Linked DNA regions of Homo sapiens. The protein of the gene in region 1 purifies or fractionates together with the protein of each later gene. This does not show direct contact. Each region holds a gene or a part of one and is shown in the gene's direction. Other genes may lie near its edges.

Region 1 (5,636 bases):
ATTTTGTTGTTGTTGTTGAGACAGTCTTGCTCTGTTGCCTAGGCTGGAGTGCAGTGACGCAATCTCAGCTCACTGCAACCTTCCCCTCCTGGGTTCAAGCGATTCTCTTGCCTCAGCCTCCCAAGTAGTTGGGATTACAGGCACCTGCCACCATGCCTGGCTAATTTTTGTAGAGTAGAGACGGGGTTTCACTGTGTTGATCAGGCTGGTCTCAAACTCCTGACCTTGTGATCCACCCGCCTCAGCCTCCCAAAGGCTTGAGCCACCACGCCCAGCCACAGTGGACTATTTTCACGTTATACCTCTAGACTTACTCTAGGGATATTGCAGCAGAACAGCTTGGGAAGTACTGGGGTATTAGAAAAGAATGCTAATTAGGAGTCAGGAGACTTAAATTTTGGTTGTGGTCTACCTTGGAGTGTTGGATAACTTCTTTTCTAGGCCTCAGTAAAATAAGAGGGTTAGACTAAATCTCTAGTGTTGTGACTCTTTAAATTTATTAAAGTTAAATAAAAGTAAAAGTTGAGCTCAGCTGGATTGTCTACATTTCAATTGTTCTGTAGCCACATGTGGCTAGTGACTACCATATTGAACAGCTCATTGCAGTAAGTTCTACTTTACAGTGCTGTTCTAGGTCTCTATTAGTAATAACCTTACGTGATTGTAAGGTTTGACACCTAGCTTCTGAGTGGCCTAGGTACATGGAGAATTTATTTTAATTAATTAATTAATTATTATTTTTTTGAGACAGAGTCTCACTCTGTCACTCAGGCTGGAGTGCAGTGGCCCCATCTTGGCTCACTGCAACCCCTGCCTCCTGGGTTTAAGCGATTCTCCCACCTCAGCCTCCCAGATAGCTGGGATTATAGGTGTGCGCCACCACACCCAGCTAATTTTTAAATTTTTGGTAGAGATGGGGTTGGCCAGGCTGGTCTTGAACTCCTGAACTCAAGTGATCTGCCTGCCTCAGCCTCCCAAAGTAATGGGATTACAGGCATGAGCCACTGTGCCTGGCTGAGAAATTTTATTTAACCTTATATTAATCTAGCTTCCTTGACTCTATCTTGTTTGGCATTGGACTTCTGTAAGTCCTTCTGTTTTAGGCATGCTTTTTTTTTTTTTTTTTTAAAGAAAAGAAACAGGGTCACCCTCTGTTGCCCGAGCTAGAGTGCAGTGGTGCCATCATAGCTCACTGTATCCTCGAACTCCTGGCCTCAAGCAATCCTCTGACATCAGCCTCCTGAGTAGCTGGGACTATAGGCACATGCCACTGCATCCAGCTAATTTTTAAATTTTTTTGTAGAGGTGAGGTTTCTCTATGTTGCCCAGACTGGCCTCGAACTTCTAGCCTCAAGTGATCCTCCTGCCTTGGCCTCCCAAAATGCTGGGATTATAGGTGTGAGCCACCACAACTGGCTAGGTATGCTTTTATAAGCATCGTAGAGGTACTTTTTTCTTAAACCAAGTCTGACAATTTTTGTCTTTTCACTTTAATTGGCAAGTTTAGTCCACTTATATTTGTTGTGATTATTGACAGAACAGCTCTTGTTTCTGTTATCCAGTTTCTACTGTTTTTTTCTGTGCTTTTTTTTCTTTTTGCCCTTTCTTTGGGGGTTGAATATTTGCTTGTTCTTATTTTATCTCCTTTATTAGTTTGGAAGTTGGCATTCTAGTTCTTTTCTTTTAGTAGTAACTCTTGAAATTTTACTTGCATACTTAACAAAATCTAACACTATTATACCCCCAGTGGTAAGAGGGACTTTAGAACATTTAATTTCAATCACCCACTCTTCACTTATAAGGAGTTGTCTCATATTTAGTTCTAATTTTAATTTTTTTTTGAAACTTAGTTATTTATTTTTTAGAGATAGAGTCTCATCCTGTTGCCCAGACTGGCCTCAAACTCCGGGGCTCAAGCAATCCTCCTGACTCAACCTCCAGAGTAGCTGGGACTACAGGTGCACATTGTGCCTGGCTTAGTTCTCTCTCTCTTTCTTTTTTAACTCTACAAATCGGGCATTATAAATTGCTATACAGACAATATTTACATATTTATCTACATGTTTGCTGGTTTATTTGCTCACTATTCTTTGTATCTAGGCCTTCCTCTGGGATCATTTCCTACCTGAAATATGTCCTTTAGCTATCCTTTTTATTTTCTCTGATTCTCTCCTAGGGGACTATTTCATACTTCTTCCTGTCTTTTCAAATCTCCAATACTTCTTCCATAGTCCTTGCTCTCAGTTAGTAATTATAGTCCCTCTTTACCAGAAGACAGAAGGAATCGGAAGAGGCCTTTCAAAAATTTTCACTACTGCATTTACCCACTAGTGTTCATACATGCTCCCTTTCCTGTTGTTACCTGATAAACCATCATTATTCCTAGCAAAGGCTAATCCCTCTACTTGAGTGCTAAATCCCGTCTCCTCTCACCGACTCACCAATATTTTACCAGTGACTCTCCCTTCTAATGTTGTATTACCCCTTTTTCCTATCTTTATTGTATCATTTCTATCAGCTTTCAGTTGTCCCTGGTACAGCAAAATTCTTTTCTTTTAGAGACAGAGTCTCACTCTGTTACCCAGGCTGGAGTGCAGTGGCATGATCTTGGCTTACTGCAACCTTCGCCTCCCAAGTTCAAGCAATTCTCATGCTTCAGCTTCCTGAGTAGCTGGAATTACAGGTGTGTGCCACCATACCCGGCTAATATATATATATATATATATATATATATTTTTTTTTTTTTTAGTAGAGATGGGGTTTCACCATGTTGGCCAGGATGGTCTTGATCTCTTGACCTCGTGATCCGCCTGCCTTGGCCTCCCAAAGTGCTGGGATTACAGGCGTGAGCCACCGCGCCTGGCCTAATTTTTGTATTTTTAGTAGAGATGGGGTTTCACCATGTTAGGTTAGACCAGGCTGGTCTCGAACTCCTGACCTCAAGTGATCTGCCTGCCTTGGCCTCCAAAAGTGCTGGGATTACAGGCGTGAGCCACGACACCCAGTCAAAAATTTTTTGAAAGAGTTGTATGTATTCGATCTAATTTTTCTCCTTGGACTGTCTTGGTCATGCTCTAATCATGCTTTCATCCTCACTGTAAATGGCAGCTCCATCCTTCTACTTGTCCAGGCCAAAAACCTTAGAGTGATCCTTGACTTCTCTTTTTGCTCTCATATCCCATATCCATAGCAAAATCCTGCTAACTTTGCCTTTGAAATATATCCAGAACCTATTGGTATCTTACCCCTCTACCACCCCAGCTGGTCCAGTCCACTATCATCTCTTGCCTGGATTATTGTAGTAGCCCCTTTATTAGTCTCCTTGCTTTTGCCTTGCTCCCCTGTATTAGTTTGCTAAGGCTACAGTAAGAAAGTACCACAAACTGTGTCTTTTTTTTTTTCGAGACAGAATCTTGCTCTGTCACCCAGGCTGGAGTGCAGTGGGGCAATCACAGCTCACTACAGGCTCAATCGATCCTCCTGCCCCTGCCTCCCAAGTAGCTAGGACTATAGGCATGCACCACCACACCTGGCTAATTTTTCTATTTTTTATAGAGATGGGGTCTCACTATGTTGCCCAGGCTAGTCTCAAACTCCTGGGCTCAAATGATCCTCTCACCTCGGCCTCCCAGAGTGCTGGGATTACAGGCATGAGCCACCATCCACAGCCCAAACTGTGTCTTAACAGAAATTTATTGTCTCACAGTTCTGGAGGCTAGGAGTCCAAAATCACAGTGTCAGCAGGATTGTTTTTTCTGAGGGCTGTGAGGGAAGGATGGAAAAATCACTCAGCTTATCTAAAAATGTCTATTTTGCTCTTACTTTTGAAAGATAGTTTGTTACAATTGACGAACCAATATTGATACATTATTATTAACCAAAGTCCCTAGTTTACATTCGGGTTCATTCTTGGTGTTGTACATTCTATGTGTTTTGACAAATGTATAATAACATATGTATTCGTTTGCTAGGACTGCCATAACAAATACACAGACTAACCGGCTTAAACAATAGAAGTTTATTTTCTTACAGTTCTGGAGGCTAGAAGTCCAATATGAAGGTCTTGGTAGGGTTGGTTTCTTCTTGTGGATGGCTGTCTTCTATGTCTTCACATGATCTTCCCTTTAAGTTTGTCTGTGTCCTAATCTCCTCTTCTCATAAGGATAAGGGCCCACCGCAATGACCTCATTTTACCTCAGCTACCTCTTTAAAGACTTTAAGATATGAACTTTGGAGTGGGGTGGGGGACACAATTGAGGCCATTAACAGTATGTATCCACCATTACAGTTTCATATAGAATAGTTTCACTGTTACAAAAATATCCTGAGCTCCACTTATTCATCTCTCTCCCCCAGAATCCCTGTTAACCACTGATCTGTTACTATCTCCATAATTTTGCTTTTTCCAATGTCATGTAATTGGAATTATGTAGTATATAGCCTTTTCAAATTGCTCTTTCCACTTAGTATATGTTTAAGGTTCTTCAATGTCTTTTCGTGGCTTGATTACTCCTTTCCTTTTATCACTGCATATTCATTCACTTTGTATTTCAACAAAACTGTATTTTTAATTTCTAGAAGTTCTGTTTGATGACTTCACAGATTTGACTTTCTTTTTTTTTTTTTGAGACAGAGTCTTGCTCTGTCACCCAGGCTGGAGTGTGGTGGCGTGATCTCAACTCACTGTAAACTCTGCCTGCCAGGTTCAAGCAATTCTCCTACTTCAGCCTCCCAAGTAGCTGGGACTATTGGCTTGCACCACGGCACCTGGCTAACTTTTTTGTATTGTAGTAGAGACAGGGTTTCACCATGTTGCCCAGGATGGTCTCGAACTCCTGAGCTCAGGCAATCCATCCACGTCGGCCTCCCAAAGTGCTAGGATTACAGACATGAGCCACCACACCTGGCCAGATTTGACTATTTATTTTGCATGCTGCATGCCTGTTTTTGTGATTCCATGTGTTATTTCTTTAAACATTTCATGCATAGCTATTTCTGTATTTTGTGGCTGATAATTCTAATATCTGAATTCCTCAGGGATCAAAATCTGTTTGTTGCTTGTGTTCTTGTGGCGACTTCTTTTCTCACATTTTTGGTGATCCATGATTGTGAGCTCATAATGGTTGTTCTTCTTCATTGGCTATCCTGGAAGCCTAAAGTGGAGAATCTTTTCCTCCAGAAAGTTTTGGCATTTGATTCATCTGAAAACCAGGGGGTACCACTCACGTGGAATCACTTTAGTCTCTTTTGAGGGTTGTGTTAATGTGGGAGTTTCAGATTCATCTCCATTTTGCCACATCATAATGGACGCTTGCGTTCAGGGCAGCCTCACTTGCTTGTTGCTCATAGGTTTTAGCTTGCTTTGTGTTTATGGAGGGTTCTGTCATTACTGAGTCTAGTGAGCACATTCTGAAAGTCCATTTTATCTAGGATTTCATTGTTTTGTAGGTGTATATCCCTTCAGACTGTCTGGTTGGGCATCTTGCCAAAGCAGGATTCAGTTGCCTGAGTTTAGATATTGACCAATAGAGTGATGGTGATCATGTTAGACACCTTGCAGTTCTCCTGGGCATCCTCTCAATTTCATTCTCAATCACTCACTCTTCAGAGTCAAATCTTGAGCCTTAGGCAAGTGA
Region 2 (4,360 bases), on another chromosome or scaffold:
CACTTTGGGAAGTCAAGGCAGGTGGATCCCTTGAGCTCAGGAGTTCAAGACCAGCCTGGGCAACATAGCAAGACCCCATCTCTACAAAAAATACAAAAACTAGCCAGGCAGGGCTGGGCGCGGTGGCTCACGCCTGTAATCCCAGCACTTTGGGAGGCCGAGGCGGGCGGATCTCGAGGTCAGGAGATTGAGACCATCCCGGCTAACACGGTGAAACCCCGTCTCTACTAAAAATACAAAAAAAATTAGCTGGGCGTGGTGGCAGGTGCCTGTAGTCCCAGCTACTCGGGAGGCTGAGGCAGAAGAATGGCGTGAACTTGGGAGGTGGAGCTTACAGTGAGCCGAGATCACACCACTGCACTCCAGCCTGGGGGACAGAGCGAGACTCCGTCTCAAAAAAAAAAAAAAACTAGCCAGGTGGGCATGGTGGTGGCGCCCATCTGTAGTCCCAGCTACTTGGGAGGCTGAGGTGGGAGGATCGCCTGAGCCTGAGGGGGATGTTGCCGTGAGCCAAGAGCTTGTGACTGGACTCCAGCCTGGGCAACAGAGCAAGACCCTGTCTCAAAAAAAAAAAAAAAAGAAAAACCGCTAGCAATGGAGATGGGAGGAGGCTTCAGAGCCCAGAGAGCAGCAAGGGTTACACAGGGGGGTAACAAGGGTTACAGCAGGAGGGGGGTCGGCAGAGCCCCACACGTGTGAGCTGGGGCAGTGGGAGGGCGTGGGTGAGGCAGAGCGCTGTCCAGGTGCTGGTAGGCCGGGGGCGGGAGGAGGCAGGTGGGGGGGCACGGTCAAGATGTATGTGAGGGTTGTGGCACTGGAAATGCAGGCATAGAGGGGCCAGGAGGATTAGGGGGTGCTGTGTGAGCGAATGGGGGCTCCGAGAGAATTTACCCAAGGACAGGAGTGGCCTGGAGTGCTGGGACCCTCAGGGTCATTTGTTCCTTGAGGGCTCTGTCCTGGAAGCATAGCCCAGGTCCTGTAGGCTGGGTGGCAGAAAGCCAGGACATGAGGGCACCGAGGCCCTGTGGAGATAGAGTGGAACCTGAGGAGGAGGTGGAGGGGAATGGGGCAGATGTGGGGCCACACCAGGAGTGTGCTGCTGAGTGAGAAGCAGAGGCCACAGATGGAATGCTGAGAGCTCTCTGAGGCCCACATGTTACAGCATCTGACCACACAGAGCTCCGGCTGCCCTGGTAATGGCAGAATCTGGGGTGGAGGACATAAGGGGGGTTGTTGGAGTGATCCGGCTGGGGGGCATGGAGGCCATAGGTTTCCCACAGGACTCGGGTGTGGAGTTCTCCAGGCTGTGGGCCAGGCCCTCTCAAGCTTGCCTCTGAGCTGCAGCAGGCACCCTGGGTCCTCTGGATGCCTGTCCCCCAGCCATCCAGACAGCCTGTGGGGACAACCACCACCAGATTCACTCATACCCACAGGGAAGGGGAAATAGAAAACCCCAGAAGCACAGAGGGGCAATGCTTGTCTTGGTGAGAGTCTGGAGTCATTGAGGGAAAAATAAATTCAGTCAAGCGTTCTATTTAAGTTTAGAGAAACTATACGTTTTAAAAGTTGTCCAGAGCATGCATGTAAGATGACGTTTGGAGTGTGGAAGCCATCTCACCTGAGCTGTGCTGCCTGATACAGGAACCTTGAGCCACACATGGCTGGCATGGTCATTGCACTGCGTGTGGTATGCACAGCAGATGCCAAATGACCGGTACAAAAGGGAATGCAAAAAACCCACCACACCTTGGGAGTCCACAGCTACTGGATCTCTTGAGCTCAGCAGTTCAGGACTAGCCAGGGCAACACAGGGAGACCCAATCTCTACAAAACACAAAAATTAGCAGGGCATGGTGGCACACATCTGTAGTTCCAGCTACTTGGGAGGCTGAGGTTGGAGGATTGCTTGAGCCTGGGAGGTTGAGGTTGCAGTGAGCTGTGACTGCACCACTGCACTCCAGCCTGGGTGAGAGAGTGAGACCCTGTCTCAAAAATAAACAAAAAACCCCAAAGTGAATGAGGCTGGGCATTGGTTCACACCTGTAATCCCAGCACTTTGGGAGGCTGAGGCAGGATCATCACTTGAAGCTCGGAGTTTGAGACCAGCCTGGGCAAAATAGCAAGACCCCACCCATTTCTACAAAGAAACAAGAAAAAGAACAGAGGTGAATGCAACATCTTATGAATAACTTATGTACTGATTACGTATTGAAATAATACGTTGGATATTTTAGATTAAAGTATTTGAGCTAATTCTGCATTTTCTTTTACTTTTTATTTATTTATTTATTTTTGAGACAGTCTTGTTCTGTCACCCAGGCTGGAGTGCAGTGGCACACTCATAGCTCACTGCAGCTTCAACCTCGTGGGCTCAGACAATCCTCCCACCTCCTCTTGAGTAGCTGGGACTACAGGTGCACACTACCACACGTGGCTAATTTTTTAATTTTTTGTAGAGATGGAGGTCTCACTGTGTTGTCCCAGCTGGTCTCTAGCTTCTGGCCTCAAAGGATCCTCCCGCCTTGGCCTCCCAAAGTAGTGGAATTACAGGCATGAGCCACTGACCCCTGCTGAGCCAGGCTGTTTTCAACATTCAATGGTCATTGACTATCTTTGGCGTTTAGGAGGGCCCTCCAGGGACCAGGCGTAGGGGCATCAGTCACCCCGCCCTCACACCCCAACCTGCAGCCACACTTGGTTCAATCCCACTGTCTAGCCCGTCTGACTCAGTAGCCCCTCCCGAGGGAGCAGGGCTAAGCAAAGCTGGTTTCCCCACTGCAAGGCACTGCAGGCCATTCTATTCTGGGCCTTCTCATCCTTCATAAAGTGAGGAGGCCTGAACAGGGCTCCCCACTAACCCTGAGAGCGCACAATTCCTGAAGATTTCCAGGATTTTCTTAGTATCAGTTATGGCTTAAAGTTATGTTGGTTTCACATTTCCAGGGTTTGTCAACCCTGTCAGATTTAAAGATAAGCATTATTAGCCAGGTGTGGCCCCATGCTTGTAGTCCCAGCTACATCGGAGGCTGAGGCAGGAAGATCCCTCCAGGCCGTGAGTTTGGGGCAGCAATGAACTGTGATTGCATCACTGTGCTCTAGACCAAGTGACAGAGCAAGACTCAGTCTCTAAACCCCCCTCCCCCACCACTCAAAAAAAAAAAAAAGCATTATTTGCTCTTTTCTGCTTCCCTCTCATCCTTGTTTCCAGAAGGGACTGGGTCATTGCTGAGGGGAGGAGAGGAAGCTCAGATGGCAGCAAGCTGAAGGGAAGCCGACTCTGAGTCAGGCCCAAGTCTGCGGCCTGCCATGCTGCGTGCTGTGGGGAGCTGAGAGCGCATGGGCACCTAAGCACCCAGATTAGGCTGCGGCTACAGAAGATCTGACTCTGTCTGGCCTGGCCTGCGGAGGGACTGTGGCCTCAGAGGAGGATGCTGGCCCAGTGTGGGAGCTGCTGCAGGGTGGCGGGGCCCGTCTGCTCATGGAAGACAGAATCCTTGCCCCTTGACCAGTCAGTGGGGACTAGAATTATGGCAGTTTGTACCACAAGAGATGCGTGGTGGCTATTGTCTGCTTTGTGCCTTTTTCACGAGTCACTGCTGGGCTGAGGTGGCCAATCATCACCCACCACGTGTTCCTGACTGCGCTCCTCCTTGGCTCAGGGCAACCCTGACTCCATCTTTGTTGAGTCAAGTGTGACAAGCTGACAGAGTTCCAAGCATGACACCGCTGTAACCCTCACCACCACCAGGCAAGAATGAGCAAAGATCTCATTCTCTGAGGAAGAACTCCCCGGAAACTCAAAAGGAGGGCCGTCCTATCCCTGCAGGGTATGGGGAGAATTTTCTGGTATTAGCATAGAAAGGGAGCTGGAGGTACCTCTGGAAGAGCGGGGGTCCACGGCATCTCAGACACAGGAGTCTCTGCTTGTTCAGGGTGACAGATGGTGAAACAGAAATGACCTAATGGATCTCTAGACACCCGGTTGCATCTTTTCTCCAGGAATCCAGTTTCCCATTGCAGGGTATTTGACTACACTTGATAAGAGGCCAGGGAAGGACCAGGATTGAGGCTGGGTGTTCTGTTGGCTGAACCCTTGTCTGGAGTCACCCTAAAAGTGATGGCAGGGGAGTTCCTGCAAGGGACTGCCCCAAACCTTTCCAGGATGAGAGCCAGTTGGGATTCCAAAGGAAGAAACACTTAATGCCAGGGTGGTCAGTCCAAAGCATTTGTTAGGGAGCTTACATACAGAGGGGGCTGCAGTGTACCCTCACGAGGGACAGCCAGGAAAGAGGTTGTGCCTAGGCACACCGCACTGAGGGGGTGGGGTGTGGAGTTTCTATGAGGGTGCAAGGAATTTGGC

What was found. Proteins that work in one complex are often made in the same cells at the same time.
Region 2: the proteins of TXNDC12 (region 1) and MZT2B purify together in Homo sapiens (affinity purification with mass spectrometry; 2 studies listed by BioGRID and IntAct, with this or other methods). This does not show direct contact.

The regions. Positions count from the first base shown.
Region 1 is NC_000001.11:52,043,965-52,049,600, reverse strand, and holds part of TXNDC12 (thioredoxin domain-containing protein 12 precursor), read left to right. Parts: intron 1-5,636. UniProt on the Homo sapiens protein: Protein-disulfide reductase of the endoplasmic reticulum that promotes disulfide bond formation in client proteins through its thiol-disulfide oxidase activity.
Region 2 is NC_000002.12:130,184,917-130,189,276, forward strand, and holds part of MZT2B (mitotic-spindle organizing protein 2B), read left to right. Parts: intron 1-3,590; coding exon of another isoform or gene 3,591-3,670; exon of another isoform or gene 3,671-4,360. UniProt on the Homo sapiens protein: Required for the recruitment and the assembly of the gamma-tubulin ring complex (gTuRC) at the centrosome.